2 separate regions of the Homo sapiens genome follow, and region 2 is linked to region 1. Evidence: fine-mapped expression QTL. A gene starts in region 1. The other region holds a variant in brackets. All regions are shown on one strand. Distances are between the middles of the regions. Region 1 holds the start of HMCES (5-hydroxymethylcytosine binding, ES cell specific). Region 2 has its middle 20 kb from the start of H1-10.

Region 1 (4,385 bases):
ATGTGATTCCCTATAATGCAGAAATGAGTCCTTTTTGACTATCATATTATCACAAAAGTTTAAAGAGTATGTACCAGAGGTATAATCAACTTTATAAAGTGATTTCAGCATTATGAATCAAATACAGTCAAAATTCAGGAAGGAAACAATCACAATTTTTTTTTTTTGAGATGGAGTCTCGCTCTGCCGCCAGGCTGGAGTGCAGTGGTGCAATCTCAGCTCACTGCAACCTCCACCTCCCAGGTTCAAGTGATTCTCCTGCCTCAGCCTCCCAAGTAACTGGGACTACAGGTGCGTGCCACCATACTCAGCTAATTTTTGTATTTTTAGTAGAGATAGGGTTTCACCATGTTGGCCAGGATGGTCTCGATCTCTTGACCTCGTGATCCGCCCGCCTCCACCTCCCAAAGTGCTAGGATTACAGGCGTGGGCCACCGTGCCCAGCCAACAATCACGATTTTTAAAAACATGTCAAGGTCATTTAAAATATTTAAGACATGGAGAAACTATTACTTTCTAGAACGAAGCATTTTTATTACACACACATACAAAGACACACACACTTTCAGGAGATAAGGCAAAAAACTAAAATATGAATGTAAGTGACTGGTAATTCCAACACTACAGGGATAAATACTATAAACACAATGAATGCAATTAAACTTCAGATAACCAAACCAAATACGTGTTTCTAGCCTTAGTAAAAGACAAACACAAAAAGATTGAAAACACAAGCAGAAAGAATAAAACTTTTCAATGCTCAAGAAACATCAGAAGTGTTTTAAATTAACTGATCTTAAGCCTGTCCTAGGCCTAGAGAAGTCTGATTAAGCTGGCCTGGTAAAGGGCATAGAAATATTCTTAAATTTTTTATTTTTTTAAATTTTTTCTTTAGGCAGGGTCTTGATCTGTCACCCAGGTGGGAGTGCAGTGGTACAACCATGGCTCATGAAGCCTCGACCTCCCCAGCTCAAGTGATCTTCCCACCTCATTTTTTTATTTTTTGTAGAGATGGGGTCTCCCTATGTTGCCCAGGCTGGTCTCCAACTCCTAGGCTCAAGTGATCCTCCCACCTCGGCTTCCCAAAGTGCTGGGGTTACAGGCATGAGCCATGGCACCTGGCCTTAAATTTTTTTATTATATTTTTAAGATACTCCAATGACCCTGATGATCAGTGAAAGCTGCTATTTTAAAACACAAAGCTCATATAAATTTGGCATATATTAAGGCTAGTATGCCATGTATAGCAAAGGCATTTAAATTGAGCCTGAAAAATACGTCTTTATCAGTGTTAGAAGCCACTGATAAAACTTCTTTCATGAGGCCAAGAGAGGTTCTCAACTGGAAGTCAGAATATATCAGTAAAGGCTGGTTTTTAATGTCATCCCAAGAGGCTGAGCACACACCAAACCAAATAGGAGATGACCATCACGAGGCTGGGCGAGGGGCTAGCATAGTGCAATGCTGGTTACCTTCTCAAAGTGCAGTCGAGACAGAAGCACTGGGCTGTTGGATTGAGGACTCTTGTTGTAAGAGGGGCAGTACTTATCAGGGTCCCTCCACTCCGGGAGCCGCTGCTGGCCCCGCCGATCCTGGTAGGCGCAAGCTCTCGTGAGAACATCTCTAGGTAAGTGACAGGATGTTCGCCCACACATTCTTCAACACCGCCCCTCGCAACCTTTAAATTACAAAACGTAAGGAAAAGGCTTACGTATCTCAAATATTAGGTCTTATTCCTTGAGTCCCCGCCTTCTCTTTCCGTTCCCACAGGGCCGTGCCCCTCCGTGACCACCGTCTAAAGTCTTCCCCAAAAAGTCCCACAAAGACAAGGATGTGCCCGTTTGCTTCGCTCCCTGAGCCCACTGCCCAGCTCCGTGCAGGGCACTGAGGCAAGTCCCGAGAGGAGCTCTGCAAATGCCTGCCTGAGCGCAGGAAGAGCCGCAGCGGAGGGGGCTTCACAGTCCAGCGAAGCAGGGCAAGCGCAGCTAGCTGGGGTCGCCTCCTCCGGGTGACTTGGTGCCCCCAACTCCCCGTCCTTCCCCCCAGTCCCCGCTGGGGTCAGCGACCCACGCCGGCCAGCAACCGGTCACCTCGAGGGCGGCCACTGGACGGCCCGGGGCCGGGGTGCAGAATCCCCGCCTCCCGCCCGCTAGTCCGCAGCGTCCCCGGGCCCGACCTGCGAACCTGTGGGCCGCGGATCCCGCTCCGGACTCTGCTCCCCGGAGCGGGGGCCGGTGCTCGGGGAGCAGGTGGCCCCCAGCCACCGGCCGCGATCCCTCGCCCCTCCCCGCGTCGCCTCCGCTCCGCTCCGGCCCTCAGACTCCGCCGCCCCGCGTCGCCTCACTTCGGCCCAGGCCGCCCTCTCCGCGTCGCCTCGCGTCCGCTCGGGCCTCTGCTCCCCTCTGTCAGCTCGCGTCGCTTCCTTTCCCCTCCCCTCCCCTCGCCATACCCCGACCGCCCGCGTCGCCTCCCCTCCCCTCACCTCGCCCCGGCAGCGCGCGTCACCTCCCTCGACTCTCCTCACCCCCGCTCCGCTCCGCTTTGGCCACCCGCGTCACCGCCCCTCACGTCAGCCCCGCCTCAGCCCGCGCTCCCGGCGCCAGGCCCCGCCCCCAAGGGCCCTTGGTTCCCGCGGTGCCCTCGGGCCCCGGAGGCGGCGTCTTCTCCCCTCCGGTTTGGGATGAATTTTCTCCCGTTTCCCCAGGAGACAGTGACTGCCTTGGGAGACATATCGATCCCAAGCTTCTCGGGACTCCACTTTCCTCCATATTGGCCGTTCCCTGGCGGGGTTAACCTTCCTCCCCGCCCCCAGCGTGTTTCAGGGCTGGCAGGGAAGGTTCCCGCCGCGCTGAGTCTAGGGCACAGGGTCATGGAAGGCGGGAAACCAGGAAACTCCACTCCTTACTTCACAGTCCTGCCAGCTGCCTCACAGTGCGAGGCAAAAATGGAGGAACACTGAAGAAATGAAAGTCAGAAGAACTTCCAGGAATCGCGCACTTCGCCCTCAAACATTGGTGGGCACTAGAATAAGCCTTTCCTGCCCCAGCCCCTCAGCTGAATCTCTAAGGGTGAGGCCCAGATTTTTAAAACAGCCCTTTCGGGTGTACTTTGGCCTCAAAGTTGGTAAAATAGCCTGGCTTGAGTTTAAAAGCCTGCTCCCCTTGGGACCTAAACCGGAGATTCTTCATCTGCAACCAACAGAGAATGCTCTAGAGGGCTGTTCGCCTATGCTGATTCGCTGAACTGAACAGGGAGCAGAAACCCCAGGGCACACTCCATGTAAGACCAGATGCTGGAACGATCAGACACAGGACCCAAGCCCTTTGGAGCCTCCATTTATCGACTATCAAAGGAGGATGCGTTGTGAAGAAGCACGAACGGGAGGGAGTGTGAACTCTGCCTGTTAGCTGATTCACTCAACCACCCTCTACCGCTCCCACCCCTGGGCTTGGTGCTGGGACAGCGATGACGGGGAGAGGGTCCTGCCTCACAGGACTACAACAGCCAAAGGGCTGTGGGTGCAAGGGGGACAGGGCAGGTGTTCTGCCTCTTTAGGGGAGGCCTTGAAGGGGAAGGTGGAGCCCTGAAGCATGAGTCTGCAGAAGTAGCAATCATTCAATAAATACATGCTGATTTATTACAGGGATAAGATGGTTTCTTGGGGGATAGATTCAAGAGGAGTTGAGAATGTTTTATTCATTTACAATGTCCCTTTCCTGGAAGGGTGGACAGCAAGATTTAGGACAAGCTAAAATCATCCCCTATTTAAAAAAAAAAAAAAAAAAAGTCACCAGCAAGTAGTCCCGGGTGGGAGGTGGGAGCAGAATAAAAAAAAATCTGCAATGATTCCTAATTGTTTTTCAATACAGAAGCTTGGGAAGGGGTTTCTGCCAGTTTCATGAGGAAGGCACAACTTCCAGGTAGTGTTGGGGAAGGGTATGAGGTCCTATGCAGGCTGGCCTCTTATCCCACAGATGCCAAGATGATGTCTACTGGCAGCTCCTCCAAACTTCTGGCTGTCACCTGCATTGTCACTGTGTCCAAAAGCAGCAGCCGGGAGCGCACCAGGATGTCATGACCACCCCGGAACACACCTAGAAGGGAAGAGAGAAGTACAGATATATACAGCAGAAGGGACTGTACAGGGCAGGCTAAGGATGGCATTTGCAGCAACCCATGAAGGCAGCTCTGGTGTAGTGAAACGGGCAGGAGAGCTGGGCTGAAATCCCTGAGTGAGGGATTTCACTGTGAAAGTCACTGTCTCTCAGCCAGGCGCGGTGGCTCACGCTTGTAATTCCAGCACTTTGGGAGGCTGAGGTGGGCAGATCATGAGGTCAGGAATTCGAGACCAGCCTGGCCAACACAGTGAAACCCCATCTCTACTA
Region 2 (4,385 bases), 57 kb before region 1:
CTAAGAAAAATTATTATCCTGTTGATCTGTGACCTTACCCCCAACCCCGTGCTCTCTGAAACATGTGCTGTGTCCACTCAGGGTTAAATGGATTAAGGGCGGTGCAAGATGTGCTTTGTTAAACAGATGCTTGAAGGCAGCATGCTCGTTAAGAGTCATCACCACTCCCTAATCTCAAGTACCCAGGGACACAAACACTGTGGAAGGCCGCAGGGTCCTCTGCCTAGGAAAACCAGAGACCTTTGTTCACTTGTTTATCTGCTGACCTTCCCTCCACTATTGTCCTATGACCCTGCCAAATCCCCCTCTGCGAGAAACACCCAAGAATGATCAATAAAAAAATAAAATAAAATAAAATAAAATAAAAAAAGAAGGAAACACCAGGAAAAGTGAAGGTGGAAGATGGAGGTGACCCTACTGCAGATGGGGTGCTCAGGGAGGGTTTCTCTGAGGAGGTGACATTCACTTGATTGGTGTATTAGTCTGTTTCACGCAGCTGTTAAAAATATATCTGAGACTGGGAAGAAAAAGAGGTTTAATTGGACTTATAATTCCACATGGCTGGGGAGGCCTCAGAATCATGGCAGGAGGTAAAAGGTACTTCTTACGTGGCAGCAATAGGAGAAAATGAGAAAGAAGCAAAAGCGGAAACCCCTGATAAACCCATCAGATCTCATGAGACTATCATGAGAATAGCACAGGGAAGACTGGCCCCATGATTCAATTACCTCCCCCTGAGTCCCTCCCACAACATGTGGGAATTCTGGGAGATACAATCCAAGTTGAGATTTGGGTGGGGACACAGCCAAATGATATCAATTGGCAAAAGGGACGGGCAGGGCCTATGAAAGTCTTCTAAGAGAGAGAACAGCAGTGCCTAGCACGGTGTCCCCTATGTCCATCCACAGGGATGGAAATAGGACAGTGAGTGGGGGTGGGGGGTGTGAGCCAGGCAGGCAGGGCCCAGACACCGTGTGATGGGTGCAGGGGTGGGACCCACGGAGGCTCTGAGAAAGGCCTGGGCCTCAGAAGACAAGGAAACAGGAAGACCCACTTACAGGCCTTCACAACTTTCTAGGGCACAGACAGTGCAAAATGGCTCAGGCCAGAATGTGGTTTAGGTTTCAGAAGGGTGCTGGGTCCCTCATGCTCTTCTTGAGGCTAAAGGGCTCCAGCTCCTTGGGCCCTTTCCAAGCAGACATTGTTCTGGGGCCCCGGCTACATGGATGGCCTTCTGATGGTTGTTGTCTGCATCCAGGCAGGGGGCATGAGCTGACCTGCTCCTTCCTTGGCCAAGTGGACAGATGAAGGAAGCCTCTGCGGGAAGGATTGTTGGACTGGGAATTAGACTTGGAGTGTAATCCAAATGCCCCACGGGCCCTGTCTCTTCTCTGGAGCTCGGCTTCATGTAAACTGGGGGACAAGGGATGGCAAGACCAGCTCGCAGGACCCTTGCCCCTCCACCCTGTGATGCTTCCAAATGGTCTCAGGGGCCACCTTTTTCAGGAAGAATTCTCTGGTTATTGAATAAAGGAAGGAGACCAGGCACAATGGCTCACGCCTGTAATCCCAGCACTTTGGGAGGCTGATGCGGGCAGCTCTCTTGAGGTTGGAAGTTCGAGACCAGCCTGGCCAACATGGTGAAACCCCATCTCTACCAAAAATTCAAAAAAACAAAATTAGCCAGGCATGGTGGTGGGCACCTGTAATTCCAGCTACTGGGAGGCTGAGGGAGAATTTCTTGAACTCGGGAGGCAGAGGTTGCAGTGAGCCAAGGTTG[C/T]GGCACTGCACTCCAGCCTGTGTGATAGAGCAAGACACTGTCTCAAAAAAAAAAAAAAAAAGAATAAAGGAAGGAAACACATTTTGAGTGGCACTTATATCAGGCTCTAGACTAGGTGTTGATTTGGTGGGGCTTGCTTTTGGTTTTTGTTGTTGTTGTTGCTGTTTTCTCCCTTTCACAAAACCTGAGTCCTATCTAGGGCCAGGAGTTAGATTCCAATTTCTAGATTTTCATAATTCTATGTTGCACAAGACAGACATCCAGGAGACCGAGGGATAGATTATTAGCAAGTGAATAAAAGATGATTTAGCTAGAGAAAATGTAGCAAAAAGGAATCAGGATGAGGGGATTAGGAATGGCAGAGGGGGAATTGGGGAGGAGGGAGTTGGAGGTGGGGCTGGGACAAACAGAAAGGAGGTGGGGGAAAAGGCCAGGGAAATCAAGTCCCAGAGTTCAGCGGGGACCAGAAACCACAGTCTTAGCAGGGCCTCAGGAGAGCAGCAAGCTGTGTTTACCTTGGAAGGGTGGAGAGAGGACTGCAGGGAGCTGAGTGGGGAGGAAGGGGGAGGCGGCAGCACAGAGGAAGCAGGGGACAGACAGGAGGAAGAGATGGTGCCCTGGGCCAGGTGGGGTGGAGGGGCCCTCTGTTCTTCAGGAGGCTCCAGGCTGTCCTTCAGCTCACTTGTAGCTTTGGATAGGCCTTTGAAGGCTACAGGGCTGCCAGATGCCCTCTTGACTTTTGAATCCTGTTCATTGACCCTGGTAGCAGCTTGGACACCTCCGTCCTCTGCTGAATGCCTCTGGGCCAGGTGTATTGGGCACATGGCAGCGTCGTCATCTTGCCCGGTTCTCACCCACAGCTGTTGGAGTCTACACATGGTCAATTTGTCCCAAGGTTTTTAATGTTCTTGAACCTCAGGGCCTTTGTTTTCTCCATTCTGAATGCCAGGATTCGACATGGACTCTCTCAGGTGTTTTGCCATAGGCAATACATTCCCATTGACTCTGGTTACCCTACGGTGCACTAGATGTCAAAACCTCTTCATCCTTTCCAACTGAGACTTTGGTCCTTTGACCAACAACCCCCCCATTTCTTCCCTCTGCCACCCCTCTACACATCTGCTCCTCAGCCCCTGTTCACCATCAATCTACTCGCTACTTCTATGAGGTCAGCTTTTTTAGATGAACACTTCAGGGACATCACACGGAATTTGTCTTTCTGAGGTGATGGAGATGCTAAGTAGTGTGATTTTGTCATTCCAATGTGCACACATCCATCTAATCCTCACACTGTATCTCATAAATGAATGCAAGCATGATTTGCCAATTAAAATAATATTAAGAAGAACATAATAAATGTAATAAAACACAGGAAGTGTAGCTCGACTGCCCCACCCACTTGGTTTTTGTCTCGGCCCAGCTGTCCATTGGGTTCACTGGTGCTGCCTTATTTCTCCCTTTGACTTTTTTGTGCTAGTCAGAAACAACATAATTGCAGCATGAAACTGAAACATCTTTTGCCAATGGCATCCGTGGCTCCTTTTGGTCACAGAGATTGAGGTTACACCATCTGGCTTCCCGGGGGTTCCCTCCGACCAAGTCACCTCTTCTGGGTCTTCCACATGGAGTGAGCCAACTTCCCAGTGGGTTCCCTGAGACAAGTCTCCTTGGGGGTTCCCCCATAGCTGCTGGTGCTCTGGGGAGGGTGAAGTCACAGGCTTATGCTGGGGGCTTTGCTGGGAATGGCTGGCTTCATCTCCAGGCCAGGTAGGGTTTGCCCTGACTCCCAGGGATGCTCCTGTTCGTGCTTCTGTGAATTAGAAAGTGGGAAAGGTCGGCTGGTTTTGAGTCCTCCTCTCGGTTGGACAGGGAAGGTTGACTTAAATGTGGCAGATGGGGAAGGACAGGTGGGGCCCCCAGGAAGGAGGGATTGTGCTCCGATGTTGGAACCCTTTCTCCTCTGCACTTTTCTGAACTCCCTGATTAGGTAGGTGGCCATGGGATGACTTCTTTTTTTTTTTTTTAATATCGCTTCCTCGATATGCTCTGCCTAGAATCCCCTGGCCACTATGAGCTGGGTTGTTGTGGGGCCTGGGAGGTCCAGGAGTGGCTCTCTGTATGGCTTGAACCATGTCTTCTGGTCGCTATTGACTCAGGAGTCCCTCAACAGCTGGTCCAGTGGAAGCTGCTCCCTGGGGTTGAGTGTGAAGAATTTTTAAATATTTTTTTCCATTAAAATAAAAAAAAAAGTAGCAGTACTATTTTAAGTTTTGTTTTTTTTTTTTTCTGTATATCCTTACAGTTCTGCTCATAAAATGGCAGGTCCCCAGCCACCATTTTGCATACGATGATGCCAAGGCTCCAAACATTGATGGCAGGTCATTGGTACCCATCCATGGCCCAGGAAGAGTTCTGGGCCTGCGTAAGGGCGAGTCCCATTAAACGTTCTCAGTCTCTCTTTGCAAATGTTGAACTAAACCCAAAGTCGGCTATTTTGATGTTACGTTCTTTGTCAAAAAAGATATTAAGGTTTGTTCTAACCCCAGGAGAGCTCTTCCCAGCTGTCTCTTTTTCCATTTCTCTCTTGCAGACTTGCCGGCCTCCA

The links. PIP is the estimated chance that this variant, and not a neighbour inherited with it, causes the effect. A credible set is the group of variants that fine-mapping cannot tell apart.
Region 2: its variant is the best candidate, but not a certain one, in a credible set for the expression of HMCES in whole blood (INTERVAL, PIP 0.54).

What each region holds. Positions count from the first base shown.
Region 1 is chr3:129,277,003-129,281,387 of GRCh38, reverse strand. HMCES (5-hydroxymethylcytosine binding, ES cell specific) reads right to left here and starts at 2,518. Exons shown (of 7, transcript NM_020187.3): 1 at 2,483-2,518; 2 at 1,473-1,678. The coding sequence starts at 1,655. COPG1 (coat protein complex I subunit gamma 1) reads right to left here. Exons shown (of 24, transcript NM_016128.4): 24 at 3,615-4,094. The coding sequence ends at 3,964. RefSeq lists an enhancer at 1,364-1,493 and silencers at 1,914-2,303, 2,314-2,663.
Region 2 is chr3:129,334,439-129,338,823 of GRCh38, reverse strand. It overlaps the pseudogene MARK2P3. Among named protein-coding and RNA genes, the nearest start is that of H1-10, 20 kb to the right of the region's middle. The variant C/T (reference allele first, on the strand shown) is at 1,781.